2 separate regions of the Homo sapiens genome follow, and region 2 is linked to region 1. Evidence: fine-mapped expression QTL. A gene starts in region 1. The other region holds a variant in brackets. All regions are shown on one strand. Distances are between the middles of the regions.

What was found.
Region 2: its variant is fine-mapped to the expression of STAG1-DT in putamen (GTEx, PIP above 0.99).

Annotation. Positions count from the first base shown.
Region 1 is chr3:136,743,898-136,759,526 of GRCh38, reverse strand. It overlaps STAG1-DT (STAG1 divergent transcript), which reads right to left and starts at 6,856. Exons shown (of 1, transcript NR_185911.1): 1 at 3,687-6,856. STAG1 (STAG1 cohesin complex component) reads left to right here and starts at 7,149. Exons shown (of 34, transcript NM_005862.3): 1 at 7,149-7,332. RefSeq lists enhancers at 5,841-6,772, 6,566-6,885, 6,773-7,704 and silencers at 6,896-7,125, 7,446-7,825.
Region 2 is chr3:137,014,563-137,030,191 of GRCh38, reverse strand. No RefSeq gene overlaps it. Among named protein-coding and RNA genes, the nearest start is that of IL20RB-AS1, 40 kb to the right of the region's middle. RefSeq lists a silencer at 2,108-2,308, an enhancer at 6,624-7,124 and a cis regulatory region at 15,402-15,629. The variant A/T (reference allele first, on the strand shown) is at 10,145.

The sequences.
Region 1 (15,629 bases):
CTGGCCAAAATTTCTTTTTAAAAAAATATCTGAGCAATTCCGATCCTCTGCTTTTTGAGAATAGAGTTTTGCCTATAACCAGGTTACTGATTCTGAAAGGGAAGGTATTCTGGATCCCTCTTACCATCTTATTACCAAGAACGGGGCAGAATTTATTGATTTAGTTATACATCTGTCTGTCTGCCTATCTGAGAAAGGGTCTTGCTGTGTCACCCAGGCTGGAGTGCAGTGGCATGATCATGGCTCACTTAAGTGATCCTCCCATCTCAGTCTCACAAGTAGCTGGGACTACAGGTGTGCGCCATCCTGCCCAGCTAATTTTTTATTTTTTATACAGATGGGGTCTCCCTATGTTGCCCAGATTGGTCTTGAACTTCTGGCCTCAAAAGATCTGACTGCCTCAACCTCCTAAAGTGCTGTGATTACAGGTGTGAGTCACTGGGCCTGGCTGCTTGCTCAGTTGTAGAAAGAATAGTGTTTTTAGGCTGGGCGCGGTGGCTCACGCCTGTAATTCAAGCACTTTGGGAGGCCGAGGCAGGCGGATCACCTAAGGTCAGGAGTTTGAGACCAGCCTGGCCAACATGGTGAAGCCCTGTCTCTACTAAAAATACAAAAATTAGCCGGGCATGGTGGCAGTCACCTGTAATCTCAGCTATTCGGGAGGCTGAAGCAGGAGAACTGCTTGAACCCAGGAGGCGGAGGTTGCAGTTTGCTGAGATCGCGCCATTGCACTCCAGCATGGGCAATAGAGTGAGACTCTGTCTCCAAAAAGAAAAAAAATTAAAAAAAAAAAGGAAAAATAATGGTTTAAATCCAGTAGGGAGGACACCATGGCATATTACTGCCACCAATTGGCAGCACACCTTAATTGCAAGAGTAGAAAAGAAGGGAAAATTATTTCTGATAATTGCAAAGGTCTACCAACGTAAGAAAGAACAAATGCCTTGTGACCAAGTGAAAAATGCAAAGGAATACTTGATTTGGGGGAGATTAAGATGAGACAGTGGTCATGATCCCTGAAACACAGGGTTTGTGGAGGTGGTAAAAATGAAGGGTGAGGAAGCTTGATCAGAAGACCTCTCTTTGCTCTAGATATCGAGCAGTTGCACTTGGAACTCTGAAAAAGGGGAAGGAAAGGGAAGAATGACGAATCAAATTTTACTTTTCTTTTTTTTTTTGAGACGGAGTCTCACTCTGTCAGCCAGGCTGGAATGCAGTGGCGCAATCTTGGCTCACTGCAATCTCTGCCTCATGGGTTTAACCGATTCTCTTGCCACCTGCCTCAGCCCCTCGAGTAGCTGGGATTACAGGTGTGCGCCACCACGCCCGGCTAATTTTTGTGTTTTAGTAGAGATGGGGTTTCACCATGTTGGCCAGGCTGGTCTCAAACTCCTGGCCTCAAGTGATCTGCCCACCTTGCCCTCCCAAAGTGCTGGGATTACAGGCATGAGCCACCGCGCCCGGCCCAAATTTTACTTTAAAAATCCTTTCTGTGTAAGAAATATCACCATTATCCTCACGCAAAAAAAGTTGATTTAATGTGTCTTACTCTAACTGTAAGGCCAATAGAATAACTGAAATCTTTTGTGTGCTAAAATTATCCAGAGAGAAAAAGACATAAGTCTGGCCCAAATTTTAAAGAAACTGTGCAATCTACACAATCAGAAACTCATTCTTTGGGTTATAAAGCAAAGTTCTTCATGTTATTGGTTAATAAATGTTAATTAGAACTAATGCATTTTCAGAAACACAATTTGGTATATTTGCAAGGAAAACAAGAAAAGCAATCTAAAGCTCCCAGTAAAACAACACTATATAAAAATCTTTTAAACTATTGCAACCCCTGTTCAATGTCTTCCCATTTCATAGGCTATAGAATGCATTTTTTTTTCTATTTATAACATTAAATATCTACTTTTGGACCAGGTTGGCTAAGAGATTGAGTTGAATTAAAGTTCTGATGGGCATGTGTCTGAAGAATTACATTATTTTTCATATCGTAGGGGTGAAGGGAAAACTTTTATATGTAATAACAAAGGGAAGTTTTCCCTCTGCTGAAGGTTTGCTGAAAAATTAACTGACGACAGTCACATTAGGCTGGGCGCAGTGGCTCACACCTGTAATCTCAGCATCTTGGGAGGCCAAGTTAGGGAGAATTGCTTGAGTCCAGGAGTTTGAGACCAGCATGGACAACACAGTGAGACCTCATCTCTACAAAGATTTTTTTTTTTTTTAGTTAGTGGGCATGGTGGTGTGTGCCTGTAGTCCCAGCTACTTGGGAAGCTGAGGCGGATCGCTTGAGCCCAGGACTTTTAGGCTTCAGTGAGCTGTGATAGTGCCACTGTACTCTAGTCTGGGTGGCAGAGTGAGATCCTGTTTCAGAAACACCAAACTTTTTAAATTAACGTGTGTGTGTGAATAATCCAGAGTGATTACCTATTATTTAGTGTGGTAAAGAAACTTATATACCCTTTTTCATAAGGGAAGGGGGAGATGGAGAATGTAGAAATTCTTTTGAGTGACAGCAAGTCATTAGGGAGAACAAATGGACCTTGGAGGTGGAAGGCAGACATTAATGGGAAGGTGAGGTGTAGAGCTGCACAGGAACAAAGATTGTCTTATTATGCAGAGAAAGTCCTCCAGGTAATCCCTTGGGGCTGCCCTCAGAAGAACAGATGAAAAGTCTGTCAGGTCATAGTGACTGTCAATCTATTCTCTAGTGGTTGATATTTCCTGGTTGTTTGATGAGATTACTAGGGAGGGAGTTTTACAACATTGCATTTCTTCTTTTTATTTATTTGTTTTTTTTTTTAGACAGAGTCTCGTTCTGTCACCCAGGCTGCAGTACAGTGGTGCAATCTCAGCTCACTGCAACCTCCGCCTCCCAGGTTCAAGCTATTCCCCTGCCTCAGCCTCCCCAGTAGCTGGGACTACACGCATGCGCCACCATGCTCAACTAATTTTTGTTTTTTTAGTAGAAACAGGGTTTCACCATGTTGGCCAGGCAGGTCTCAAACTCCTGACCCCGGGTGATCCATCTGCCTCGGCCTCCCAAAATGCTAGGATTACAGGCATGAGCCACCATGCCCTGCCCTGCCAACATTGCCTTTCTTTTGGAAAAAAGCTTTCTTGGTCAGATAAGGAAATTCCAAAGAGAGTGTACCCTTGGTGCTTCGGGAAAGAGGATCAGGGAGACAGGGAAAGGTAAGAGACAGACCTTGGTTCTGAGGCCGTTCAATTTTCAAAGCATTGAGCATGCTGAAGTGCTGTATTTTGGGGAATCGTTTTACTGTGCCTCAATAATATTTTGATCATATGTATGACTTGAAGCTGTTAATAAAAATTGTGATGTTTGAAAATCCTTGCCAAGAGAATTGGAATCTTGATTAAGAATTTCATTGGCCAGGCGCAGTGGCTCACGCCTGTGATCCCAGCACTTTGGGAGGCCGAGGTGGGCTGATCACCTGAGGTCGGGAGTTGAGACCAGCCCGGGCAACGTGGTGAAACCCCGTCTCTACTAAAAATATAAAATTAGTTGGGCGTGGTGGAGTATGCCTGTAATCCCAGCTAGTCTGGAGCCTGAGGCAGGAGAATCGCTTGAACCTGGAGGCCGCGGTGAGCCAAGATCGCGCCATTGCACTCCAGCCTGGGCAACAAGATCAAAACTCTGTCCAGGGAGGGTGGGGGTGGGGAAGAATTTCTTAAAAGCAGCCTCTGCTTTTATGTGTAATTCTGTAACAAAGTCAACATGTTATGGGACCTTTATTACTTTATCTTACCAGATAGGTAAAGGATGAATAAATCTGCCCTTCACTTACATTTATGATTAATCAGACAGGTCAGCTAGTGTGAATAATTTCTAATGAAATAGAGAAAAAAATGAAAAAATATCAAGGCATGCCTTGAATGTCATTAACTATTTTAGATGATATCTTTTAAGCCATAGGAATCACAGAACGCTTTTGTGTAGGTATAACAATGTTGCATTTTAAAAAGAGAAGTGAAGCAGGAGTGGGGAGTAGAGGGAAGGTGGGTCAATGGCACCTACTTCTGGACCTAGCAAGGCTGAGGTGTGAGAATCACTTGAGCCCAAGTCAGAGGTTGCAGTGAGCTATGACTGCACCACTGCCCTCCAGCCTGGGCAACACGGCAAGACCCTGTCTCAAAAACAAACAAACAAACACAAACAAAAGGGAGGTGAATGAAGGGAGAGGTGTTTACAAGGCTAGTGCAATAGTTTTGGTGTAAGGCAATGGGAGGGGAGAAGGGTTTGAATAAGGATGGCAGCAGTAGAAAAAAAAGCAAGCCATCTGAATGAGGTATGGTGGGACTTAGGCTTTTTTGAAAGAAAATAATCAAGTCTGGCCCTACAATTTAGAGCCTAGGCTGCTATGTAATTATTTATAAACAATTTATAAAATTGATTATAAAAATGACTTATAATCAATTATTAAGTGTGAGGGCAAAATACAATTTTAGATTTCTATAAACTTAGAAAGTTGATTACCCATGCCCTCAGAGTTAAAAAAATGCTAAAAACTTCTTAGTAAGATTAAAAACAATAAATGTAATAATGCTGATGGCATTTCTATAATATATTAAATAGTTTAAATATTAAATAGTTAAATAGTTTAACACTCGTAACAACCCTATGAGATTGGTACTGTTGCTATTTCCATTTTGCAGTTGAGGAAATTGAGACAGAAAGAGATTTGTCTAAGGTTACAAAGCTTTCCAGAGCAGTCTGGTTTCACAGTTCATGTTCTTAATCACTACACTAGCTGAAATTACAATGTTAGGATAAATTAGGAAATTCAAATAAGAGAGATGAATTATTTTAAGTGTTTGAGCTGCAGCTTTCTGGCAAGTAGCTGAACACGAGGAAACTCAGTTAAGGAAAAATCAAGAACAGACTAATTTTGGGAGACCTAAGAGAAGGCATGTAGTAGAGAACAGATTGAAGAAAGAGGAGGTGCTAGCAAAGAAATCAGAAGACCAGCAAACTAGGTAGGTGTAGATCCGGGGAAGTGTCTTAAAAGAAAGGGAAAAAGGGTTTCAAGTAGGGGATGGGGATTGGTGAAAACCGTAACTGTTTCTTTTGAGAATGTGTCAATGAAAGGAACGTTGATAGCATAGCAACTGGAGGGAGTAACATCACTGAATTAAAAAAAAAAAAAAGACAAAAGAAACTTTTTTTTTTTGAGACAGAGTCTCACTCTTATCGCCCAAGCTGGAGTGCAGTGGCGTGATCTCGGCTCACTGCAACCTTCACCTCCCGGGTTCGAGAGATTCTCCTGCCTCAGCCTCCCGAGTAGCTGGCATTACAGGCGCACACCAGCACGCCTGGCTGTTTGTATTTTTAGTAGAGACAGGGTTTCACCATGTTGGCCAGGGTAGTCTCGAACTCCTGACCTCATGTTATCTGCCCGCCTCTGCCTCACAACGTGCTGGTATTACAGGTGTGAGCCACCGCACCCAGCCAAGACAACAGAAACTTCTGAGAAACAGAAAGGAAGAAGACAGTGGATAAGAACATATTTACATTATAAGGCGCTAGGAAAGTAGTGGTGGAAGGAGAAGGTGGGAAGGGATGGCATAGTTTCAGGCAGAGGGAGTGGCTTTGGAGAGAAGGGTTCTGGGTTAATTTGGTTAGAAGTTTTGGGATCACGAACAGGAGGTGGTCACAGATATTTTATAATGGAGGCAAGGTCAAACCGGAATTGGAGTCCCATAGCTCTGAGCCCAGGAAACTGGATGAATTTATCTATTAGTATGGACTGGGACTGGCATCTTTAACAACATGGAAAGCTTGAAACAGTCTTTGTGGAAAATAGGAGATCAGCCAGAGATTAGAAGAAAACGCAAGAAAATTATAAGTAGGAGTCCAGTCACGAATTCATATCCAATCTGGTCAGTTATGACTTCCTCCAGCGAAAAGCCACACATCTTGCAAACCCTTGAGAGAGAAAACACAAATAGGGGTAACCTACTGGAGACAGGCCCTTAAGACTATAAAGTAGTTGAGCGATTCCATACTGAAATAGAGTTGGCTATAGCGATAGAGAAGTTAGTCATATATGGGGCTAATGATCCAGGAGAGTAAGGATTCACTTTTGTGGTGAAAAGTTGTAAGCAGGTGAAAGGTAGGGATCCATGGCCACGGACGGGCAGGTGGAGATCAGGGAAGAGGCGACGTTAAACATAAATAGTTTGTTAATGATTTCACCTTACTGATTATTTCTCTTTTGGCATCTAGAAGGCTAAGATTCTCATGTGTATTTCAGAGCTACTGAAAGTAGTCCTAGGTTGTGGAGGGAGAAATCCACTTTCACAGCTGAGTCTATCTTCTCAGTCTAGTTATATTCTCCTCTCACAAACTAGCCAATGCTGCCGCCTTATGCAAAGCCGACACCACGGAAAGATGTGCTTTACAGAGGCAGGATGACGCCAATCGGCCTAGGGCCGGCGGTGTTTCGTCTAGATTAATGGCGAGGGAAGTCCCCAATAGTCCTTTTGAAACCTTTTCACTCTTGCCTGGTGAAAGCGCTTGTCAGCCGTAAATCGCGAATACAATGCTAAGCTCTGAGGCCCTTGCTAAATCCAAGTAGGAGCAGGGATCTGCGCGGCCTCACCCTCGGGTTTCCGCAGGGCGTCTCGAGAGCTGCGGATGGGGGCAGCAGGAGCCGGGCGGGAACAGAGGAAAGCGCCGGCCCTGAGACCTAGGGAGGAGCCTCGGTGAAGGAACCCGGGGCGGGTTCCTGCCTAGATCTCCAAGAAGCTCCAAAAATGGCGGGCGGCAACTCGGCGAGCCGGACGCGCAGGCGCCACCGTGGCCGTCCTTCCGCCAGCCGCGGGCGGCCCAAGAACCGTCCACAGCGCCCTTATCCAGAAGCCTACGCCTCTCGCGATTGGCTGAACTGCGCGAGCGCTCCGTGTGGGGGCGGGGCCGCCACGCAGCGGCCACGTTTCCCGCCCCGCTGGTGCGCGTGCGCGCAATCCCCACTGGAAAGCGTTTGCGCGCGCCCCTGCCGCGGCCCCTAGCTCGCGCCTCAGCTCCCTCCCCTTTCCGGGCAGGCCCGTCCCGTCAGCAAGGCAGTGAGCACCGCGGCCAGCAGAGGGCGGTCCGGACCCAAGTCTGCAGCGGCGCCATTGGCGTGTGGAAAATGCCACCAGATGGCGGGTTAGGATTGCAGCTCCGTTGAAGGCGCGGCCCCCGCTCCCGAACCCCCGGCGACCACCCCGTAACAACCCCCCCACATCGGGAATAACACACCGGAGACTTTTGGGGGGAAACTAGGTCGATGGTCGGCGGCGCCCGGATGGGCAGCTGAGGTGAGTGCGGGCGGCGGCGACGGCGGCGGGGGGCGGGAAAGAGGGGGAATGCGGCGGCAGCGGCGCGGGGGCTGGAAGCGCCGATCCAAGATGGAGGCCGGGCGAGAGCGAGAGAGCGCGAGCGGCGAGCGGGCGGGCCGGGCGCGGGCCCCGTGCGGGGGAGGGAGGCCGCGCGGGCCTGTGCGGGGTGCGGCGGTCGTGGGCCGTCCGAGTGCCCGGAGAGACGTCTGTGGGCGCGGTGGGCACCCCGGCGTCTTCGTCGCTTGCCACCCCTCCCGCGGGCACCAAAAATTTTGCCCCCGCCCGCCCGGGCACTACGGCGACAGGCGCGGAAGCCTTTGTGGCGCGCTCGGGCCCGCCGCCAAGCCCGCCCTCCGCCCCCCCCCGCCCGGGCTCTCGGGAGTCGCCCGCGCCCAGCGGGGCCGGGCCGACGCGGGCTGGCGCGAATGCCTTCCGCCGCCTGCCGACCTGCGTTTCTGCGGTGTTTTAGCGGCGGCGGCGTCACATGACAACGAGTTCATTTCAGCGGAGGGGCCTGGGGGGTCGCTCGGCGGGGCGGCTGGCCCAGGCTTCTTGTTGGCGGGGTGGGGCAGCGGGGTGGCGGCTGGGGGAGATGCATCAATGCTGGGCTTTCCAGCTATCTGCCCTCTCAGCCCCCGACGGGGGCCTCCTTGTGAAACGTGTCCAGGCCTAAGCACTGCCCCGCTAGTTTGCCAGTCCCCTGAGAGACGAGGCCAATAAAAGTTGTTTTCCCTCCTTTCTCGAGGTGGGGGCGGGGTGGGAAACTAGAGTGCTTGGAGTTGGACCTGAGCCCCGTTTGCAGGGTCCGAACTGGGTTCTTCTTGTATGGTATGGGTACTAAGAAATTTTCAGGTTTTAGGATTGTCACGTCACCCCCATCTACCCACATTTGAAATGTTATCTGTCGATTCTCTTCACATTGCAGGGAATCGTGCTCCGGGAGTATAAGTCATAGGATAGTTTTGGACACTTACAGACAAAAAAAAAACAAAAAAAAAAAACGCAATTTGTCATAAAAAAAAATTATTTGCTGTTAAAGTTGGTGTTAAGATGGATAGAGTTTATTCTCGTGATTCTGACTAGAAAGACTTGCATCTTCGCAAAAATAGTGTTTACTTGAGAAAGTATCTGAATTGGCACAAAGTTGTGTGATTTGTAACTTATCTGGAATTTGAATGACTCTACATTTTAGTTTTCCTCGTGTTTTAAGAAAATTGCACATTCCGATGGTGAAGCACTTAGGGAAATATACAGAAGAGTGAAAATAAAAATAACTTGTTTATTGTATGGTAATGTAACGTACCTTGTTCTAATATTCATAATGTATGAGGAATTCAGACTGAAAAATTTTAACCAAGTAGGGAAATATGGAATGGAAAGAAGCAGAAATGTTATTTCCTTGCTTTTGATGATTAAGAATACTTATAAGACAAATTGTTACCCAAATAAAGTTGTAGAAGATCTACAGGTGTTTTGCCACGCATTTTCCTTTACATATTTAAAACGTACTTCGAGTAAACTAAATTAATTCAAGTGATCTACCAGTGGTCATTTTCACAAACGAACTGCTTTTGAGTGGAAATTTTTCTGTATCCACTTCAGTTTCGATGTTCTGATAAGGCTAAGGAATATTTAAATAGATGCAAAATATGGAAGTTTGTTGTGTTACTAGGATTGCCTCCTTTGAAGAGACTAATAAAATGACTGTAGATTTGATTGGCTCTTTTAAAGCCTTAAAGGCACTATGGTGTAGGGGAGAAGGAGTGGGTCCTGGACCGAAGTTACTTTGAACGTCCCCTGGGTTTGTGGTGTTCAGGGTGTTACCTTTGAGCCTTACTTTCTTTATCTCTAAAAATGGGGAGCTGGGCCCAGTGGTGCACTCCTGTAGTTCCAGCTACTCTGTAGTGAGGCAGGAGGAACCCTTAAACCCAGGAGTTTGAGGCTTACCTGGGCAACATACAAGACTCCATCTCTTTAAAAAAATAAAATAAAATGGGGATAGTATCTTACGGTGATTGTGTAACAAGATGTCTGTGAAAAACACACATTTAATTGCTGTAACTTAAAATTTACAGAATTTTGTACAGTTTTAATCTTTTTTTCCTTGATTCTGACTCTGTGTATGTTCATAATCTCAGTGCTGTGAGAAGAAATAATGTACTCTGGGAAAGATACGTTCTTGTTTCCCCTTTTATTTGTTGTTTTGTCCTGTATCTTTATATCTTTATTTAGGGGGGTATATTAGTTTCTTTCTTTTTTTTTTTAATGCATAACAAATTTCACACTTAACAGATTAACAATTATTTCAGCTTCCATAGGTCAGAAGTTTGGGGAGGTATAGCTGAGCATCTCAGGCTAAAATCAGGGTGTCAGCTGTGATTGCAGTGCATATCTGAGGCTTAGAGTTGTTTTTCTTTTTTTTTTTTTTTGAGATGGAGTCTCATTCTGTCACCAGGCTGGAGTGCAGTGGTGTGATCTCGGCTCACTGCAACCTCCGCCTCCTGGGTTCAAGCGATTCTCCTGCCTCAGCCTCGCAAGTAGCTGGGTCTACAAGTGCGTGCCACCATGCCCACCTAATTTTTATATTTTTAGTGGAGACGGGGTTTCACCACGTTGGCCAGGATGGTCTCCATCTCTTCACCTCGTGATCTGCCCACCTCAGCCTACCAAAATGCTGGGATTACAGTTGTGAGCCACTGTGCCCGGCCAGAGTTGTCTTTCAAGGTCACTACTTGTTGGCACAATTAATTTCCTTGTGATAGTGTGACTGAAGTCCCCATCTTCTTGTTAGCTGTTGGCCAAGGACTGCTCTCAGATCCTTGCCGTGTGGCCACATAGTTCACAACATGGCTGTTAGCTTTTATCCATGCTAGCAGGAGTCAGTCTCCCTATTTCCTGTGTGTCTGACCTCTGACTCCCCCCTTTAAGGTCTTTTTTAAAAGCTCACCAGCTAAGCTCTGAGGCCCTTGTGGTAAACTTAACTGATTAAGGGCCTTAATTACATATGCAAACATATATTTTGTCATATAATCACCGTAATGATATCCCGTTATATCTACAGGTCTCTCCCACACTCAAGGGGAGGGCATGATACAAGGGTGTGGGTTAGTGGAGGCTTTTAAGAATTTTGCCTGCCGTAGGAAAAGAAGTATCTTCACATTTACCTCTTCAGATTCCGGACATACAAGGAGAGGACCTAGGCAGAGCAGTAACCCCACTTGATCAGCTTACTCTTACTTATATTGCCTTTTCCTCACCTTTTTTCCTTTCCCGTTTCCTGGTACCTTAGTTTACATGCCTTCCTCTATGAAATAATTTTATTGCATTGAGAGGAAATTAAAAATAAAAACGAAAATTTAAAACGTTATAAAGAAGGGAGGCAATGGGAGAAGGGAGTTTGTATAATTATTTTTTCTTTCATTTCTGCCACTAAGAACACCTTTTTAAAAAATTTAAAAAAATTACTATTATTGGCCTGGTACAGTGGCTGACACCTGTAATCCCAGCACTTTGGGAGGCCGAGGTGGGTGGATCACCTGAGGTCAGGAGTTTCAGACCAGCTTGGCCGTGGCCGACATGGTGAAACCCTGTCTATACTAAAAATACAAAAATTAGCCAGGCGTGGTAGCACTTGCCTGTAATCCTACTACTCAGGAGGCCGAGGCAGGAGAATTGCTTGAACCTGGGAGGCGGAGCTTGCAGTGAGCTGGGATCACGCCACTGCACTCCAGCCTGGGTGACAGAGTGAGACCCCGTCTCAGGAAAAAAAAAAAAATTTATTATTTTTTGAGTGTGCCCCGACCAGAGTGCAATGGCATGATCTAGGCTCACTGCAACCTCCACCGCCTGGGTTCAGGCGATTCGCGTGCCTCAGCCTCCCGAGTAGCTGGGACTGTAGGCATGTGCCAGTACACCTAGCTAATTTTTTATATATTTGGTAGAGACAGTGTTTCACCTTGTTGGCCAGGCTGGTCTCTTGACCTGAAACTCTTGACCTGAAACCGTCTGTCCACCTTGGCCTCCCAAAGTGCTGGGATTACAGGCATGAGCCACCGTGCCCGGCCAGTTATTTTTATTTTTTAAAAATTACATAATTCTTGGCCAGGCGCGGTGGCTCACGCCTGTAATCCCAGCACTTTGGGAGGCCAAGGTGGGTGGATCACGAGGTCAGGAGATCGAGACCATCCTGGCAACACGGTGAAACCCTGTCTCTACTAAAAATAGAAAAAATCAGCTGGGTGTGGTGGCGGGCACCTGTAGTCCTAGCTACCGGGGAGGCTGAGGCAGGAGAATGGTGTGAACCCGGGAGGCGGAGCTTGCAGTGAGCCGAGATTGTGCCACCTGCACTCCAGCCTGGGTGACAGAGTGAGACTCCGTCTCAAAAAAAAAAAAAAAATTACGTAATTCTTGCCATTCTTTGATGCCTTTTGTTTTACCTGTTTTTGATATGATATTGAATCTCAGAGAAGTTAAGGAATTTATTTTTTATTTTTTGAGACAGGGTCTCTCTCTGTCACTCAGGCTGGAGTGCAGTTGTGCAGTCACAGTTCACTCACTGCAGCCTCAACCTCCCCAGGCTCAGGTGGGGCCTGGAGTAGCTGGGACTACAGGTGCATGCCACTACGCCCGGCTAATTTTTGTATTTTGTATAGAGATGAGATTTTGCCATGTTGCCTAGGCTGGTCTCAAACTACTGGCCTCAAGTAATCAGCCCGCCTTGGCCTCCCAAGGTGCTGGGATTACAGGCGTGAGCCAGTGTGTGTGGCCGAAGTTAAGGAATTTAAATGCCTTGGATCACACTCCTCTTAAGTGGCAGAGTCACACAATCATTGCGTCAGACAGTTGCTGTGGTGTGATTGGTCTAGCAGCTTTTGAGGAGAGAATTCTTTTTTTTTTTTTTTTGGGACGAGTCTTGCTCTGTCGCCCAGGCTGGAGTGCAGTGGCATGATCTTCGCTTACTGCAACCTTCGCTTCCCAGGTTCAAGTGATTCTCCTGCCCCAGCCTCCTGAGTAGCTGGGAATGCAGGCACGCACCACCATGCCCGGCTAATTTTTTTTTTTTTTTTTTTTTTTTTTTTTTAGACAGTTTCACTCTTGTTGCCCAGGCTGGAGTGCAGTGGTGCAATCTCGGCTCACTGCAACCTCTGCCTCCTGGATCCAAGTTATTCTTCTGCCTCAGCCTCCTGAGTAGCTGGGATTACAGGCATGTGCCACCACACCCAACTAATTTTGTATTTTTAGTAGAGACAGTGTTTTTCCATGTTGGTCAGGCTGGTCTCGAACTCCTGACCTCAGGTGATCCGCCTGCCTCGGCCTCCGAAAGTGCTGGGATTACAGGCTTGAGGCACTGTGCCTGGCTGCCTGGCTAATTTTTGTATTTTTAGTAGAGACGGGGTTTCAGCACCTGCCTAAGGCCAGGCTGGTCTCGAACTCCTGACCTCAGGCAGTCTGCTTGCCTTGGCCTCCCAAAGTGAGCCACTGCGCCCGACTGAGGAGAGAATTCTTATGAAGAGAATAGTTATTTGCAAGTCTCAGAGTAGGGGTATTATTGGTGGAACAAAGAAGGCAGCAGAAGTTTAGTCATGGCATACGGTTTAGCAGTCCAAGAAGCAAAATATTTTCATGAAGAGGCAATTAAGACAGGTTAGCCAAGGATAATCAAGCTTTAAAGCAAGCTTGTCCAACCCGTGGCCCAACACAATTTTATACACTTTCTTAAAACATTGTGAGTTTTTTTTTTTAGCTCATCATTTATAATTAGTTTATTTTACAGGTGACCCAAGAGAATTCTTCCAGTGTGGCCCAGGGAAGCTAAAAGATTGGACACCCTTGCTTTAAAGGATATAACTGGGAATTAAAATTGCTAGGGAGATATATTTTAACACAGAAATGATATAATAGGGGCTTGGTAAATTTTTGTTGACTGAATAAAAATATAAATCTTTAGAATTTAGATGATTCTTGCTAGAGTGGTAGGGAAAAACTAGGAAGCAGAGAGCTAAAATGATATTCTTGCATAAGCCACAGAATGAGGTGATTCTTGAAGGAATTAGAATTGTGTCTGTAGGAAGTTTTCTGTTATTTTGGTGGTTAAGGGGACAGTCAGCTTCCTGCCTTTTAGTGCTGAAAGTGTCTTATAATTCAGTTGGTTTTATAGAATCTTTTCTTTATATAACATACCCCTTATTGCTTCCCTCAGATTTTTCTCCTCCTTTTCTAAATCAAGCTTGTCCAACCTGTGGCCCATGGGCTGCATGCAGCCCAGAATGGCTTTGAATGTGGCTCAACACAAATTTCATAAACTTTTTAAAAACATTATGAGGTTTGTTTTGTTTGTTTGTTTTTTACCTTATTAGCTATCATTAGTGTATTTTATGTATGGCCTACAGCAATTCTTCTTCCAATGTGGCCCAGGGAAGCCAAAAGATTGGATACCTGTGTTCTAAATCAAGGGTCCCCAACCACTGGGCTGTGGACCCATACTGGTCTTTGGCCTGGTAGAAACTGGGCTGCACAGCAGGAGGTGAGAGGCAGGTGAGCTAGCTTTATCACCTGTGCTCCATCCACCTCCTGTCAGATCAGTGGGAGCATTAGATTGTCATATGAGTGCAAATTCTATTGTGAACTGCACATACAAGGGATGTACGTTGCGTGCTTTATCTAATGCATGATGATCTGAGGTGGAACAGTTTTATCCTGAAACCTTCTGATTCCCCACCCCATCCGTGGAAAAATTTTTTTCCACGAACCTGGTCCCTGGTACCAAAAACGTTGGGGATGGCTACTCCTTTTTGCCAGTCAGTAGTGAAGGATGTCATAAATCTTGCCTTCTTCCCTGCCCCCCGTTTGTTTTTTATTTATTTTTAATTTTGTGAGTCCATAGTAGGTGTATGTATTTATGGGTTATGTGAGAATGTCTTACCTTCTTTATGAAATACATTCCTTTGTGCTATGGGCCAAAATGATGTACCATTTAGTTGTCCAAGAATTTCAATGGAATTTTGCTGTAAACATAATAGCAATGGCTTTTAACTTGTTTTCTAGCTTCTGCTAGCAGTTACAAAAACATTTTACATTGTAGCCTAGTACAAACACACACATCCACACACAATGAAAATAAGTTTCATGAAATAATACTTTATCTTTATGCAGTGCACTCTGATATTTTCTGATCTTTTCTATTAGGAATGCTGGTTGTGGCTGGGCACAGTGGCCCACACCTATAATCCTAGCACTCTGGGAGGCCGAGGCGGGTGGATCACTTGAGGTCAGAAGTTGGAGACCAGTGTGGCCAACATGGCGAAACCCCGTCTCTACTAAAAATACAAAAATTAGCTGGGTGTGGTGGCATGTGCCTGTAGTCCCAGCTGCTCGGGAGGCTGAGGCACGAGAATTGCTTGAACTCTGGAGGCGGAGGTTGCAGTGAGCTGAGATGGCACCACTGCATTCCAGCGTAGGTGACAGAGTGAGACTCTGTCTCAAAAAAAAAAAAAAAAAAAAGATGGTTGCAGTTTACCTAAGAAATGTCACGACTCACAGCAGCTAACACTGGGAAAAGCATTGAATTGTAATCTCATTGGTAAAAAGGAAAGTGCAAAGTAGAGCCATGAGAAGAAACCATTTCACTTCCATCAGATTGACAAGCATTAAAAGTCTGATAATGTCAAGTATTGGTGAGAATGTAGAGAAATTACATTCTCACTTTTGTCAGCAGTGTAAATTGATACAATCATTTTCTGAAAGATGTTAGTAAGATAGTAAATTCAAGCTTCATGTATTTTAACCCCAGCAGTTGTACTCCTGTCTTTATATTCCTGATGAATGAAATCCTTGTATTTTTATTTTGGAGACGGAGTTTCGCCCTTGTTGCCCAGGCTGGAGTGCAATGGTGCAATCTCGGCTTACCGCATCCTCTGCTTCCCCAGTTCAAGCAATTCTCCGGCCTCAGCCACCCGAGTAGCTGGAATTACAGGGATGCACCACCATGTCTGGCTAATTTTGTATTTTTAGTAGAGACGGGGTTTCTCTATGTTGGTCAGGCTGGTCTAGAACTCCTGACTTCAGGTGATCTGCCTGCCTCAGCCTCCCAAAGTGCTGGGATTACAGGCGTGAGCCACGTGGCCAGCCAAAATCCTTGTATTTTTGTACCAGGATGTGTGAACAGAATGTTCATAGTAGCCTTATTTGCAGTAGCCAAAATTCAGAAATAAACCGTATGTCTTTAGTGGTAGAATGGTTAAATTAATGATGGTTTTCAAAAGTTAAAATAATTTTGG
Region 2 (15,629 bases), 270 kb before region 1:
GTGGTCCCAGCACTTTGGGAGGCTGAGGCAGGCAGATCACCTGAGGTCAGGAGTTCGAGACCAGCCTGATCAACATGGAGAAACCCCGTCCCTACTAAAAATACAAAATTAGCCATGAATGGTGGCAGGTGCCTGTAATCCCAGCTACTCAGGAGGCTGAGGCAGGAGAATCACTTGAACCCGGGAGGCAGAGGTTGCGGTGAGCTGAGATTGCACCACTGCACTACAGCCTGGGCGACAAGAGTGAAACTCCATCTCAAAAAAAAAAAAGAAGAAAGAAAGAAAGAAACAGTCTTACTCTGTCACCCAGGCTGGAGTGCTGTGGTACGATCATAGCTTATTGCAACTTCAAACTCCTGGGCCCAAGCAAATCCTCTCACTTCAGCCTCCCAAGTAGCTGGGACTACAGGTACATGTCATCATTCAGCTAATTTTTTTTTTATTTTTAAGAGATGGGGTGTCACTATGTTGCTCAGGCTGGTCTCAAACTTCTGGCCTTTCAATGCACTGTGAGCCCATTACAGACAGGCGCCAATGCGCCCAGCATTTCTATCTTTTAATTCACTTATCTTTCACCAGCTATTTTCACCGGTTGTCTATCCTGCCTGTTGCAGTCTTTTTTTTATTTCCAATAGCAATATATTTCATGACTGCCTATTTTTGTTTAATAATATCCTGCTCTCATTGCAAGGACACCGTTCCCTCCTTACCATTTCAGTATGTAACATAATGTTAACCTTAAAACTAATTTTTTTAAGACAGGGTCTCACTCTGTCTCCCAGGATGGAGTGCAGTGGTGTGATTACAGCTTATTGTAGCCTCGACCTCCCAGGCTTGGGTGATCCTCCCCACTCAGCCACCTGAGTAGCTAGGACTATAGGTGAATGTCACCACACCTGGCTAATTTTTTAATTTTTTGTAGAGATGAGGTTCTGCCATGTCGTCCAGGCTGGTCTCGAATTCGTGGGCTCAAGCAATCCATCTGCCTCAGCTTCCAAAACTGCTAGGATTACAGGTGTGGGCCACCACACCCAGACTAAAAGTCATATTTAAAAATCATGCCTGCCACCTTTTGAAAGCATATGAAAAGGACTGAGTTGTTAGACATTTCCAAGGACATGTGAAGAGGATGTCTTTGAAGAGAGCTGTTGAAGCCCTCTGAGTCTCATGGCCCCAGGGAAAGGGTGGAATGGAGCAGATGACCTCTTAGCCCCAAGCTTAGGGTCCCATGCAGACAGCTTGGTTTGTGTCCCTGCCACTAAGGAAGAAAGAAGGTGGGAGCCTGGCTCACCTTGAGGAAGCCAAACAGCCTGCAATGCAGAGTGGAAGGCGGCGTCTAGGAAAACCGGAGGCTAAGGAATAAAGTTTTAAAAAAAATGTGTTGCCTACATCATAGGAGTGACAGTCTGAGTTTCAGCAGGGATGCCTACAAAAAACTCACAAAAGTGCCCATAGGAGAAAGAATCAGCTTTAAACCTCAACAGGGCCCAGAGAGCCAAAACCAGCCTTCAACTGTTCCAATCAAGTAAGACCTTCCTGAGCCCAGTTCCCTTCTTCCTTTCTTTTTTCTTTTAATTTTTATGGATACATAGTAGGTGTATATATTTATGGGGTACATGAGATGTTTTGATACAAGCATACAATGTGTAATAACCACATCAGGGTCAATGGGGTTTCCATCACCTCAAGCATGTATCTCTTTGTGTTATGAACATTCCAATTATACTCTTTTGGTTATTTTAAAATATTCAATAAATTATTGTTGACTTGTAGTCACCTCATTGTGCTATCACATACTAGATCTTATTAATTCTATCTGACTCTATTTTTGTACCCATTAAGCATCCCCACTTTTTCTCACTGCCCTCCTCAGCCTCTGGTAACCATCCTTCCATGCTCTATCTCCATGACTTCAATTGTTTTAATTTTTAGTCCCCACAGACGAGTGAGAACATGCAAAGTTTGTCTTTCTGTGCCTGGCTTCTTTCACTTAACATAATGACCGCCAATTCCATCCATGTTGTTGCAAATGACAGGCTCTCACTCATTTTTATGGTTGATAGTACTCCATTGTCTGTATGTGCCGCATTTTCTTTATCCATTTGTCTGTTGATGGACACTCAGGTTGCTTCTGAATCTTGGCTCTTGTGAACAGTGCTGCAATCCCTCTCCCCTTCTGGAACTCCAATCCCAGGTGGGTGCACAACAGCAACAGATAAAGGAGGAGGAGGAAAAAAAGAGAAGCTGACCACACCCCTCCCTGAAGTAAGAAAGCTCCTTGCTAGAGACCAAAGAGGCTTTATCTTTTACAAGAGTTTAAAGTGGGCCGGGTGTGGTGGCTCATGCCTGTAATCCCAGCACGTTGGGAGGCTGAGGCAGGTGGGTCACCTGCGCTCAGGAGCTCAAGACCAGCCTAGGCAACATGGCAAAACCCTGTCTCTACAAGAAATACAAAATTTAGCTGGTGCAGTGGCACGTACCTGTAGTACCAACTGCTGGAAGGTTGAGGCAGGATAAATCACTTGAGCCCAGGAGGTCAAGGCTGCAGTGAGTCGTGATCCTGCCACAGCACTCCAGTCTGGGCAACAGAGTAAGACCCTGTCTCAAAAAAAAAAAAAAAAAAAAAAAAAAAAAAGTTCAGACTATTTTCCTATCTGGGAATAGACTATTTTAACGTGAATTGAAACCATGGTTTCATGTGACTACCAAGCATTTTATTACCCAGGAATGATCAGAAAGTCATCCACTGGTAGGGGAAATACTGCCCCCAACTAGACAAATTTTAAGGGAGGATGAGAGACTTTCTGTGAGACTAATTATCATCCTTTCAAATGGTTCATAATTTCCACCTCTCCTGTTATTAATTTTGCTTCTTAAGCCTGAGAAGTATGCCTCATGATAAATTTTGACATGTCCTTTGCAATTTTTGTTTTATAGCTCATTCTGCGTGGGAATTCTTTTTTGATGGACAGACTCTTCCACGTTAGGTGCTTTTGCGGTTGCCTGAGCCCTTTCTTCCTGATTTGCACACCCAGGAGCAGGTCTCATGTTATAGAGTTTGGGGTGTTGGTTCTCAGCCAAAAATATTTCTGATGCAGCACCCATGTGCAGCACCAGCCTGGTTCTCATATTTACATCAGTGCCCTTTTCTTCCTGCACCATGAGCAAGCAGCACATTTCTGGAGTGTTTTCAACCCCAGCTACATGGAGGGAGCATGGGTCGGGTCTCCTGCCAAGCATAGGCATGTTCATCCCCATTCTCACATAAGCTTTAAAGCCAGCCTATGTATATCCAACTCCTTCTACCCCTGGGCTACTCTTAACCAGCTTATCCTGTAAGTTTACTCTTCATTCTTAGTACGGAGAGAGAGGGAAAGAAAGAGTATGTGTGTGTCCCCATCATTCCTCCAGGTTTCGAGGCAGTTACAGAGAGGGTTTGATGTGTGCTCACTCCACCATCTTGAGCAGATGTCTTCCAGTCATGTCTCAGACACTATTGAGCAAGATGTAGGCCCCAGCCACCAGGACATCTCAGCCTTCCAACAGAGTGGACAAGCCCATTTCCAAAGTGGCAACATCTTCACTCAGTGATGGGAGGAATTTGTTTATTAGTGGCTTTGGCAGGAATCCCTCCCTCTCTCGCCTGTCTTGCCCAGAAGAGTGGACACCTCTCCAAGAGAACTGATGTTGGAGAGTCTGGCTCAATATTCTAAGAAGCCACCATGCCAGAGGCCTCCCTAAGCCCTCCTTCTCACCCCAGAGGCTTGACTGTGGACACAGGACTTTTGGATAAGAATCTCAGGTGTAAATGCTGGTATCACATAGACCAGACTCTCCCTTCTGCCCTAAAGGGCTCAGAAGACTCTGGGCCTCAGTGGTGCTGCTCACAAGCTCCTGCTCTCTCCTATGGCTACACCACCAACCCAGCCTGGCTTGAGCTTCCCAAGCCTGGAAGCTCCAACAGCCAATTCAGGTAAGAGGGGCAAGAAGAGGGGCCTGGGCACAGCTCACTGGGGCAGATGGGGAGTCTACACCCCAGGAGGTAACCTGGATGTTTCGGGAACTGTATTAGTCTGGCATGGAAGCAGCCCATCTAGTGTAGCCCACAAGCCTCAGAACCCACAGATCACCCTGTCTGAAAGCAGAGCAAGTGGCCAAGCAGCAAGGCTGGATTACAGTCAGTTCCAGTCGGCTGGAATCACTGAGTGCTGACTGTACCCCCGCCACAGCACTAAGAACATTGCACGCTTGTCTCATTTAATCCTCTCCCTATCCTAATGTGGGAAATGTTGTTATTTGCTCCATTTTCCAGGTGAGGAATCAAAGCTCAGAGAGGCCAAGGAATTTGTCCAAGGTCACATAACTTTTAAGTGATCGAGTCAGAACATGGGTAGTTTGAGTCTGGAAGCCACACTGCCAGTCCCTCTGCTCCGCTTCCTCTGGCACTGTGACTCTCCAGAATGTTGAGCTGGTCCCCACTACATCAGCTCTTATGGAGAAGTGTCCATTTTTCTGGGCAGGATGAGAAGGGCTGGTGCTGGGCCCACAGCAGACCAGGGCTGTGGGGAGTAAGGAAGGCCTGCAGCATGGACAGGTAAAGAGACCCCTGTCCCCACAGACAGTCAGAGCCCAGTGCCCCTCCACAACAATCTGGTCCAAGCTCCTTGTTCACTGGGACAGAAAATAAGGGTGAGAAAAGTGACAGTGAACTGTCCAAGGTCACACAGCAAGAAACCAGCTACACCAGGACCAAAACGCATCTCTAAACAAGAGCAGCCTCATCCTGATGCTTCGGAACCCACCATCCTTCTGCACAACCCAGAGCTGTTTTCCATTTCTTATTGCCTTTTTGTTTGTGTATGTGTTTGTGATTTTTTGAATGGCAGATGACCACACCCACCCCAGGAGATTTTTCTTCAAATGATCCGGAGCGAGGCACAGGCATCTGCCCTTTGTAATGCTCCCCAGTTGACTCTAGCATGCTGAGATCCCCTACTCCAGCCAACCTTGACTTGCTCTCCTTGGTGCTTCCCTCCTGCATCCATGCTTTTGGAAGGAGTGGGCTGCCACCCCTCCACTCCTCAGTGGGACACGCAGCTGCCCACTATTAACACAGCTCTCCTACCAAACCCAGGGGCCTCCTCTCTGAGCGGCATAAAATGCTGCTAATCACCTGTGCTGGGATTGCTACACCTACAGCCTTCCAGACATCCAGCACCCCAAACCCAACACATCCCAACACAAACTCATCATCCTTGCCCCACGGCCCTGGACTCCTCCGTTTCCTTCATTGGCTGCACACATTGAGCACAAGCTAGGTACATTGTGAGGCCCCTCATGCATGAAGTAGAAAAAGTGTCATTAAAGGTGCATGGAAAGCTTTTTCCTTTCTTTTGTGATCTCTTTCTAGGATTGTCATGGTGGGTTTTTTAATTATTATTTGCTGTTTAATGGTATTCTAAGTGAAAAAAAGTCAAAAAATTAAAACTGTTAGTACAGTCTCTTTGCTGCTCATTTTATAGTGTGCAATGACAATTTTAAATGCAAATACCAGAGCATTTAGCTGGTGCAGAATCACCGAAATTGCACAGTTCTTCCTTCATGGCTTGTCCCCAGAGGGTGCCATGAGCTGGCCAGAAGAGGCACACCCAAGGCAGACTCAGGGAAGTATAGAAAGAGGAAGAGAGGACTGGGCATGGTGGCTCACTCCTGTAATCCCAGCACTTTGGGAGGCGAAGGCCAGTGGATCATCTGAGGTCAGGAGTTCAAGACCAGCTTGGCCAACATGGTGAAACACTGTCTCTTCTACAAATACAAAAATTAGCCGAGCGTGGTGGCAAGCGCCTGTAGCCCCAGCTACTCAGGAGGCTGAGGCAGGAGAATTGCATGAACCCAGGAGGCAGAGGTTGCAGTGAGCCAAAGATGATGCCACTACACTCCAGCCTGGGTGACACAGTGAGACTCTGTCTCAAAAAAAATAAAAAATAAATAAAAAGAAGGAGGAAGGGAGGATTCCCCAGGCACAGGGCCACCCTGTGACACAGCGCACATGCATATGCACACTGCCTGCCTGTGGGTTCCACCTCCCACCAGCCAGCCAGTGCCCCTAGTCTCACCTGGGGGTAGGGCCTGGAAAACTCAAGCAGGTGCCTCCACTTCCCACAGACTCACAGCCCCAACACACAGCATAAGGCTGATCCCCAGGGATCTCTAAACCTCCATGCTGAGATGCACTTGGTACCTGGATAGGGGGTAGGGAGAGGCGCAGACACATCATAGCAATGCCAGCCTGAAGTAAAGACAGCTACCACCATGCCATGCCCCAAGACATCACAAAGTGTGAGCACCCAGCAGTCTCTGAGCCCCCACCTAGGCCCCTGCAGAGGTGGAGAGCAGCAATGGTCCTGGGGTGGAGGCAGGGAAGAGGAGGTCAGTCACACACGGAGCCAGGGGCAGGGGAGCGGGTGGCTGAGAACCCATGCCAAGGAGGCAGTGCAAGGTGGGCCCACATGTCAGCTGAGCCTCCAAGCCCCTGGCACACTGCATTGTCCCATTGGACTTCACTTACAAAACACAAATTCAAAGGTAAAATTAAGAATTTCGAAACAGTAACCACAGAGCACTAAAATCCAAGGGGGCGGGAGCCTTGTGAGCTCAGAGTGCAACTGCACTGGCCACATGCCATGAAGCTGGCCCTGACCACAGGTCTGTCCATGCTCCCTCTGGGAGCCCTTGCCTGGATAGTGGCAGCCACCAGGCTTGTCTCCGTTCCTCAGATCCTCCTTTGCTTTTGGCCCTGCCCTCTAAGCCAAAATTATCTAGACCCAGGACAGACATCAACCCATGAGCTGGCTCAAACAGATTCTCTTTCAAAAGAATTTGAACCAAGGGGCCCAGATCCAGAAACTGGTTACTGGTGGAAACCTGGAGCTGGGAAGGTCACGAAGCTCAGGGGCTGGGTTGGAAGGGGATCAGTGAGGACCTTCTTCCCTGAGAAAGAACAGGGAACAGCATAGCAGTAAGAATGCAGGGCAGCCTGTAATCCCAGCACTGTGGGAGGCTGAGGCGGGCAGATCACTTGAAGCCAGGAGTTCGAGACCAGCCTGGCCAACATGGTGAAACCCGGTCTGTACTAAAAATACAAAAAAATTAGCCAGGCATAGTGGTGCACCTGTAATCCCAGCTACTCAGGAGGCTGAGGCAGGAGAATCGCTTGAACCTGTAACTGTGGAACATGTGTGTTTAGCCAATCCTTTCAGCATAAAGCTCCTATCCCAACCCCTCCTTCTTCAAAGTGCCTGTCTCTGGTCTTGGCCAGAGGCAGGCTTTCCAGCCTGTGGGATGGCCACCTTGCAAGCTGTAACCTTTTATAAGAAATTTAGAAAAGTCCTATTGAAAACTTTTTTTTGAGTCCGAATCTCATTTCTACATGTTGATCCAAAAGATCTCTCCTTTTCTAAATTTATAAATTTTGGCGTTTTTTAAATAAGTTAACAATATGAACTGTAAGTTTTCAGGGCATTTCAAAGTGTGCGTGTGTATGTGTGTGTGTGTGTATACTTGCATGTGTGTATATGTGTGTATTGATGTATAAGTGTGTTTATATATGTGTACATTTATATATGTATGTATTTATGTATGAGTGTGAATGTGTGTATATGTGTATGTGTGTATTTGTATGTGTGTATGTGTATGTGTGTATATGTATGTGTGTATGTGTGTATACGTATGTGTGTATGTATGTGTGTGAGTGTGTTCGTGCTCTGACTGAAGTTAAATACTTAAATACTCTTGGAATTAATGACACTTATTGCCCAGTTTGTCAGCTTTGTACAGGCTTATTATGAAGTTTGAGTTAATTTATTTCTTGAAAGAGAATTTTCTTTTTGATCAATGTTGTGGAAAAATTTTTTTTCAGCAGGACTTTTACTATTAACTTAACGATCCCCATGCACTAAGAAATGAGGGGGACTGACCACCAGCCAGCAGCCGGAATCCATCAAACTTCAATTCCTAAGCATCAGTGTTATGGGTCCTTCTAGTGCAAGAGTATAATCAGTTTCCCAATTTAATTGTGATATTTTATGTGGCATTGTGTGACTCAAAGTCGCAACTTACAGGGTCATTCCACTCATACTCCCCTTGAGCTATACAACTTCTTCTGACTGATGTATTTGTGTTTCCTAGTTTTTGTTTTCTTCATCTACACAACAGACGAATCACTAACACCAACATAATACCAACATGCCAACATGTAAATGACTTGGCAGATCCTCTTTTTTTTTTTTTTTGAGACAGAGTCTCACTCTGTCGCCCAGGCTGGAGTGCAGTGGCGTGATCTTGGCTCACTACAAGCTCTGCCTCCCAGGTTCACGCCTTTCTCCTGCCTCAGCCTCCCGGGTAGCCCACCACCACGCCCGGCTAATTTTTTGTATTTTTAGTAGAGACGGGGTTTCACCGTGTTAACCAAGATGGTCTCGATCTCCTGACGTCGTGATCTGCCCTCATCGGCCTCCCAAAGTGCTGGGATTACAGGTGTGAGCCACCGCGCCTGGCTGACAAATCCTCTGTTTTTTTCTCCATTTTCTCTTACTACTCGTAGTCTTTTGCTCCTTTTATGTATCATCTTGGACTCATGGCTTCTCCAATCCACCATATGCCCATTGGCTTCAGCCGATACTCTCCTTTTGACATTCAAGTTGCCTCAACTTTGGCCAGCAGAACCCCTTTTAGATGGCTCCTCTGTCCTTTTGACTCTACTAATTTATTCAAACTTTCTTGATTTCTGGCCTTGTTGTTCAGTGTTTAGGATTTCCTTGAATTTCCAGCTCAAAGTATGGAATATGCCATTCCTCCCAAGACGCTTTTGGTAAGAAGAGCATTAGAGACCAGAATGTGGGTGCCAAAGTGCATTGTGAGGTGACATGGCTCCTGGGCATTTCAATAGACAGAGAGACAAAGGATACGTATTTTTAATTTACTATTTTTGTTCTTTTAAAAGCTTGAATTTATCTTGATTTTTTCAGTCCAGTTCTAACAATAAAGTGTTCCTCATCAAATTATTTTTTTACTTTTTTCTTTTATTTTTAGCTGACACATAATAATTGTACATATTTATGGGATAGAGTGTTTTTCTTTAGAAATTTTAGTTTTATGAATTCCATTAAGGTATTTTTTGCTTGGTTTGAAACATCAGTGCCATTCTGGTTTTATTTTTTTTTAATTTTTTATTGATAAGTCATAGATGTACATATTTTCAGGGTACATGTGATAATTTAATACGTTCACCTCACTGGTAAAGATTAAATCAGTGTAATTGAAATATTCATCACCTACTCAAATTCTTGATTCTGCAATTGTAGTTCCTCTTCTCCTATGCTAAGAAGTCTAGATTTCTAACAAAATAAATGATCACTTATTTGTCTGGAAAAATTAGTTCTAAAATAATATTACAACATTAATGCAAATTTTCCAATTATCAAATACAGCTCAACTTTTCTAATAGTTCTTTTTTGTTTATTTTTAGACGGCATTCCACTAAGGATTTGCTAAAAATCTCTTTGCTCTAAACTCATTCATAACCTCTGACTCTTTGGCTCTGTATAGAGCTTTGGCTCATCTGTTCTCGTTTGTTTGCAGTTTGAGAGCCCTGGCATCAGAACAGCTGACAGACCAAAGCTCTAGAGGGGGGTGACTGGCAGCCACCAGGAAACAGGGGATCCTCCCTACCGTGAGGTGATAGAGGAGCCTCCAGCAGCGCAGTGGCCAATATTCTGCATGACGGTTGTGTTTCTCCATCTACAATGGTTTAATACATGGGTATAATCCAGATTGGCACACATGATTTCTGGCTGAATTAGCCAGTTTTGCCCCTGACATTTTATCTATCAAACCCATGTTACTTTCACAGGTTTAGGAGTTTGTTTGTTTTTTTCTTTTTCTTTTTAATTCTGTTCTTATCTTCCAAGCTTTTAATTTATCTTGCTCCTTTTTATGAGCTATAGGCTCTCCCTCCTTTTATAATATTCTACACCCCCTTACCAACCTAATATATCAGGTATGTGTTATTACATCAAGATTTTCAGTGAAAAATCAAAATGGTTCTCCCAATCAGTAGTTTCTTGACCCAGAACCAAAGTTTTTT[A/T]TTTTCTCACAGGAGGATCAGATTCTTTATGATTAGCCAAGAATAGTAGCTATAAATGCAGTATCTTAAGATTTTGGCCCAAACTCTCTTTTGACTTATGAATAAAAATGTAGACTTTGCTTCATATATATTGCTGTCATCCTTATTTTAATTACAGACCAATAGAGTGTAGATTTCCAAATTCTCAGAAGTCTTTGGAAAACACAATTACCAACTACCTTAACTCTATAGAAAATTCAAACTTCCCAAGGTGAAATGAAAATGCCATAACAATACAACCAGATATACTTCAATAAAGTTTAAATTAAAAATACATAAGCATCCCTAACTCATTTTATGAGGCCAGCATCATCCTGATACCAAAGCCTGGCAGAGACACAATAAAAAGAAAAGAGAGAATTTTAGACCAATACCCCTGATGAACATCAGTGCAAAAATCCTCAATAAAATACTGGCAAACCGAATCCAGCAGCACATCAAAAAGCTTATCCACCACGATCAACTCAGCTTCATCCCTGGGATGCAAGGCTGGTTCAACATACGCAAATCAATAAACGTAATCCAGCATATAAACAGAACGAAAGACAAAAACCACATGATTATCTCAATACATGCAGAAAAGGCCTTTGACAAAATTCAACAATCCTTCATGCTAAAAATTCTCAATAAATTAGGTATTGATGGGATGTATCTCAAAATAATAAGAGCTATTTATGACAAACCCACACCCAATATCATACTGAATGGGCAAAAACTGGAAGCATTCCCTCTGAAAACTGGCACAAGACAGGGATGCCCTCTCTCACCACTCCTATTCAACATAGTGTTGAAAGTTCTGGCCAGGGCAATCAGGCAGGAGAAAGAAATAAAGGGTATTCAATTAGGAAAAGAGGAAGTCAAATTGTCCCTGTTTGCAGATGACATGATTGTATATCTAGAAAACCCCATTGTCTCAGCCCAAAATCTCCTTAAGCTGATAAGCAACTTCAGCAAAGTCTCAGGATACAAAATCAATGTGCAAAAATCACAGTCATTCTTATACACCAATAACAGACAAACAGGGAGCCAAATCATGAGTGAACTCCCATTCACAATTGCTTCAAAGAGAATAAAATACCTAGGAATCCAACTTACAAGGGATGTGAAGGACCTCTTCAAGGAGAACTACAAACCACTGCTCAATGAAATAAAAGAGGATACAAACAAATGGAAGAACATTCCATGCTCATGGATAGGAAGAATCAATATCATGAAAATGGCCATACTACCCAAGGTAATTTATAGATTCAATGCCACCCCCATCAAGCTACCAACGACTTTCTTCACAGAACTGGAAAAAACTACTTTAAAGTTCATATGGAATCAAAAAAGAGCCCGCATCGCCAAGTCAATCCTAAGCCAAAAGAACAAAGCAAGAATAAAGCTGGAGGCATCACTATTCAAACTATACTACAAGGCTACAGTAACCGAAACAGCATGGTACTGGTACCAAAACAGAGATATAGACCAAGGAACAGAACAGAGCCCTCAGAAATAATATCACACATCTATAACCATCTGATCTTTGACAAACCTGACAAAAACAAGAAATGGGGAAAGGATTCCCTATTTAATAAATGGTGCTGGGAAAACTGGCTAGCCATATGTAGAAAGCTGAAACTGGATCCCTTCCTTACACCTTATACAAAAATTAATTCAAGACGGATTAAAGACTTAAATGTTAGACCTAAAACCATAAAAACCCTAGAAGAAAACCTAGGCAATACCATTCAGGACATAGGCATGGACAAGGACTTCATGTCTAAAACACCAAAAGCAATGGCAACATAAGCCAAAATTGACAAATGGGATATAATTAACCTAAAGAGCTTCTGCACAGCAAAAGAAACTACCATCAGAGTGAACAGGCAACCTACAGAACGGGAGAAAATTTTTGCAATCTACCCATCTGACAAAGGGCTAATATCCAGAATCTACAAAGAACTCAAACAAATTTACAAGAAAAAAACAAATAACCCCATCAAAAAGTGGGCAAAGGATATGAACAGACACTTCTCAAAAGAAGACATTTATGCAGCCAACAGACACGTGAAAAAATGCTCATCATCACTGGTCATCAGAGAAATGCAAATCAAAACCACAATGAGATACCATCTCATACCAGTTAGAATGGCAATCATTAAAAAGTCAGGAAACAACAGGTGCTGGAGAGGATGTGGAGAAATAGGAACACTTTTACACTGTTGGTGGGACTGTAAACTAGTTCAACCATTGTGGAAGACAGTGTGGCGATTCCTCAAGGATCTAGAACTAGAAATACCATTTGACTCAGCAATCCCATTACTGGGTATATACCCAAAAGATTATAAATCATGCTGCTATAAAGACACATGTACACGTATGTTTACTGAGGCACTATTCACAATAGCAAAGACTTGGAACCAACCCAAATGTCCATCAATGATAGACTGGATTAAGAAAATGTGGCACATATACACCATGGAATACTATGCAGCCATGAAAAAGGATGAGTTCATGTCCTTTGTAGGGACATGGATGAAGCTGGAAACCATCATTCTCAGCAAGCTATCACAAGGACAAAAAACCAAACACCACATGTTCTCACTCATAGGTGGGAATTGAACAATGAGAACACTTGGACACAGAAGGAGAACATCACACTGGGGGCCTGTTGTGGGGTGGGGGAAGGGGGGAGGGATAGCTTTAGGAGATATACCTAATGTTAAATGACGAGTTACTGGGTGCAGCACATCAACATGGCACATGTATACATATGTAACAGACCTGCACGTTGTGCACATGTACCCTAGAACTTAAAGTATAATGAAAAAAAGAAAAAGAAAAAAAAATACATAAGCACCTGTAATCCCAGCTACTCTGGAGGCTGAGGCAGGAGAATTGCTTGAACCCAGGAGATGGAGGTTGCAGTGAGTCATGATGGTGCCACCACACTCCAGCCTGTGCAACAGAGAGAGACTCCATCTAAAAAAAAAACACATGAGCAGATATGTCCAATTATATCATGATTTATTTTTTATTGACAGAGAAGTGTATCAGATTATTTCACCTTTAAACCGTTCTCAGAAAGTTCAAGTGGAAACTTTTTTACAGAATCATACAATTTTCAGACTACATGGATTCCAATAAAACCAGTTTGTAAAATACACCAGTGTTTACAATTACAGCACACACTTATGCAATAGCTATTTAGTGTTGGTGAAGAAATCCAAATTCTTCCCAAATTTTATGATTTATTCTGAACTATATTATTTGAATTTAAAAGGTGAATTGACATATCACCTGTTTCAATTATCAAGTTTTTAATTCCTTTCTGAAGTTTTAAATAGCATTTAATTTAAAAATCCCAATTTTGGAATAAATGTTTTAGGTGACAAATGAGTTTTTAAATGAGTCATTAGCCAAAGAAAAGAGTGGGCCCCACTTTCTCATACCCTCTGCCACAATCAACACCATGCACATCTCTGGAAGCTGGGCTTTTTGTTTTTAAGCAACATGATGAGACCCACACCTCATGACCAAGTTTTTATCAGTTCTTTAACCTGAGCCTTGCCTTTGTCAACCCAAAGTTGCAACAGAGGGAGATGTTACTTAATGTTACTTGTATTTAAATTTCAGCTTCTATTTGCTGCCATCAGCTAAACTGAAACTCTTCATTTAAAACACAGGCGGTGGCTCACGCCTGCAATCCCAGCACTTTGGGAGGCCGAGGCGGGCAGATCACTTGAAGCCAGGAGTTCGAGACCAGCCTGGGCAACATTGGGAAACGTTGTCTCTACTAAAAATACAAAAACTAGCCAGGTGTGGTGGCAGGTGCCTGTAATCCCAGCTACTTGGGAGGCTGAGGCAGGAGAAACGCTTGAACCCGGGAGATGGAGGTTGCAGTGAGCTAAGATCACGCCACTGCACTCCAGCCTGGGTGACAGAGCAAGACCCCTGTCTAAAAACAAAAACAAAAACAAAAACACACAGTAAGCGTTCCACCTCACTGGCCCTCCATAATCTAGGCCTGATCTGGGGTGAGGCCAAGAAAAGGGGAAAACTATTCCATTTTGATCTATTTCCAATTGCAAGACTCAAAAGTTCAAGTGAGGCAGGGCGCAGTGGCTCATGCCTGTAATCCCAGCACTTTGGGAGGCTGAGGCAGGCGGATCACCTGAGGTCAGGAGTTCAAGACCAGCCTGGCCAACACGGCGAAACCCTGTCTCTACTAAAAATACAAAAATTAGCTGGGCATGGTGCCAGGTGCCTGTAATCCCAGCTACCCAGGAGGCTGAGACAGTAGAATCGCTTGAAGCGGGGAAGCGGAGGTTGCAGTGAGCCAAGATAGCACCACTGCACTCCAGCCTGGTTGACAGAGCAAGACTCCATCTCAAAAAAAAAAAAAAAAAGTTCAAGTGAGACAGTGAGCAGTTAATGTCAATGAAATGATTTCACCTGGGAAAGCTTGTCCTCGTGATTGATGCAGGTGGGATGACATCAGAGGGGCCTACTTTCTGGGCTGTGATCTCCTAGGGCCAGAAACTCAAGATGATGTTTTGTAGGCCTAATCTTATACTGAGGCAATTTCATAGAAGACTGGCTGGCATCTCCAGGAAATTTGGAGGCATGTGGCCACTTCCTAGAGGAGCTGTTTTAGGTACAGAGGCAAAATTTAGAAGTTACTGAGGTTTGTTCAGGCACTCATTTCTCCAAACGCCAGGATGGTTTTTTTGTTTGTTTGTTTGTTTGAGACGGAGTCTCGCTCTGTTGACCAGGCTGGAGTGCAATGGCGGGATCTCAGCTCACTGCAACCTCTGCCTCCCGGGTTCAAGGGATTCTCCTGCCTCAGTCTCCCGAGTAGCTGGGATTACAGGCGCCTGCCACTACATCCGGCTGATTTTTGTATTTTTAGTAGAGACGGGGTTTCACCATGTTAGTCAGGCTGGTCTCGAACTCCTGACCTAAGGTGATCCACCCGCCTCGGCCTCCCAAAGTGCTGGAATTACAGGCGTGAGCCACCGCGCCCGGCCACCAGGGTTTTTTTTGTTTTTGTTTTTTTGTTTTTGTGGGGTTGTTTTTTAACGTAGTTGTTGTTGTTGTTGTTTGTTTAATTTTCTCAGTGAGGTCCAGTGAAGGAACCAGGAACATGTACCTCCTCCACAATATGAGGATTTATACTTTTGCTCTTGGAGATGTTTGCAGGCACCTGAGAAGGCTCCTTGCTCAGTTCTTCCTCTAAGGTCCTCCTTAATGGGGTTTTACAACCTGATCTTGCAACCTCTCACTGGGGGAGACAAGAAAGGTCCGTGTTTTCCTTTTGTGAGCCTCATTCTCCCACCTCTGGCAAGGATACGTTTTTCCAGGTTTTGTTGTTGTTGCTGAAGAAACTGGGAGTCCCAGGAGCCAGAAGAGAAAGCTGTAATTTGGGGCCAACTCTAGTGTTCCAGTTCCAAACTTCACAGGC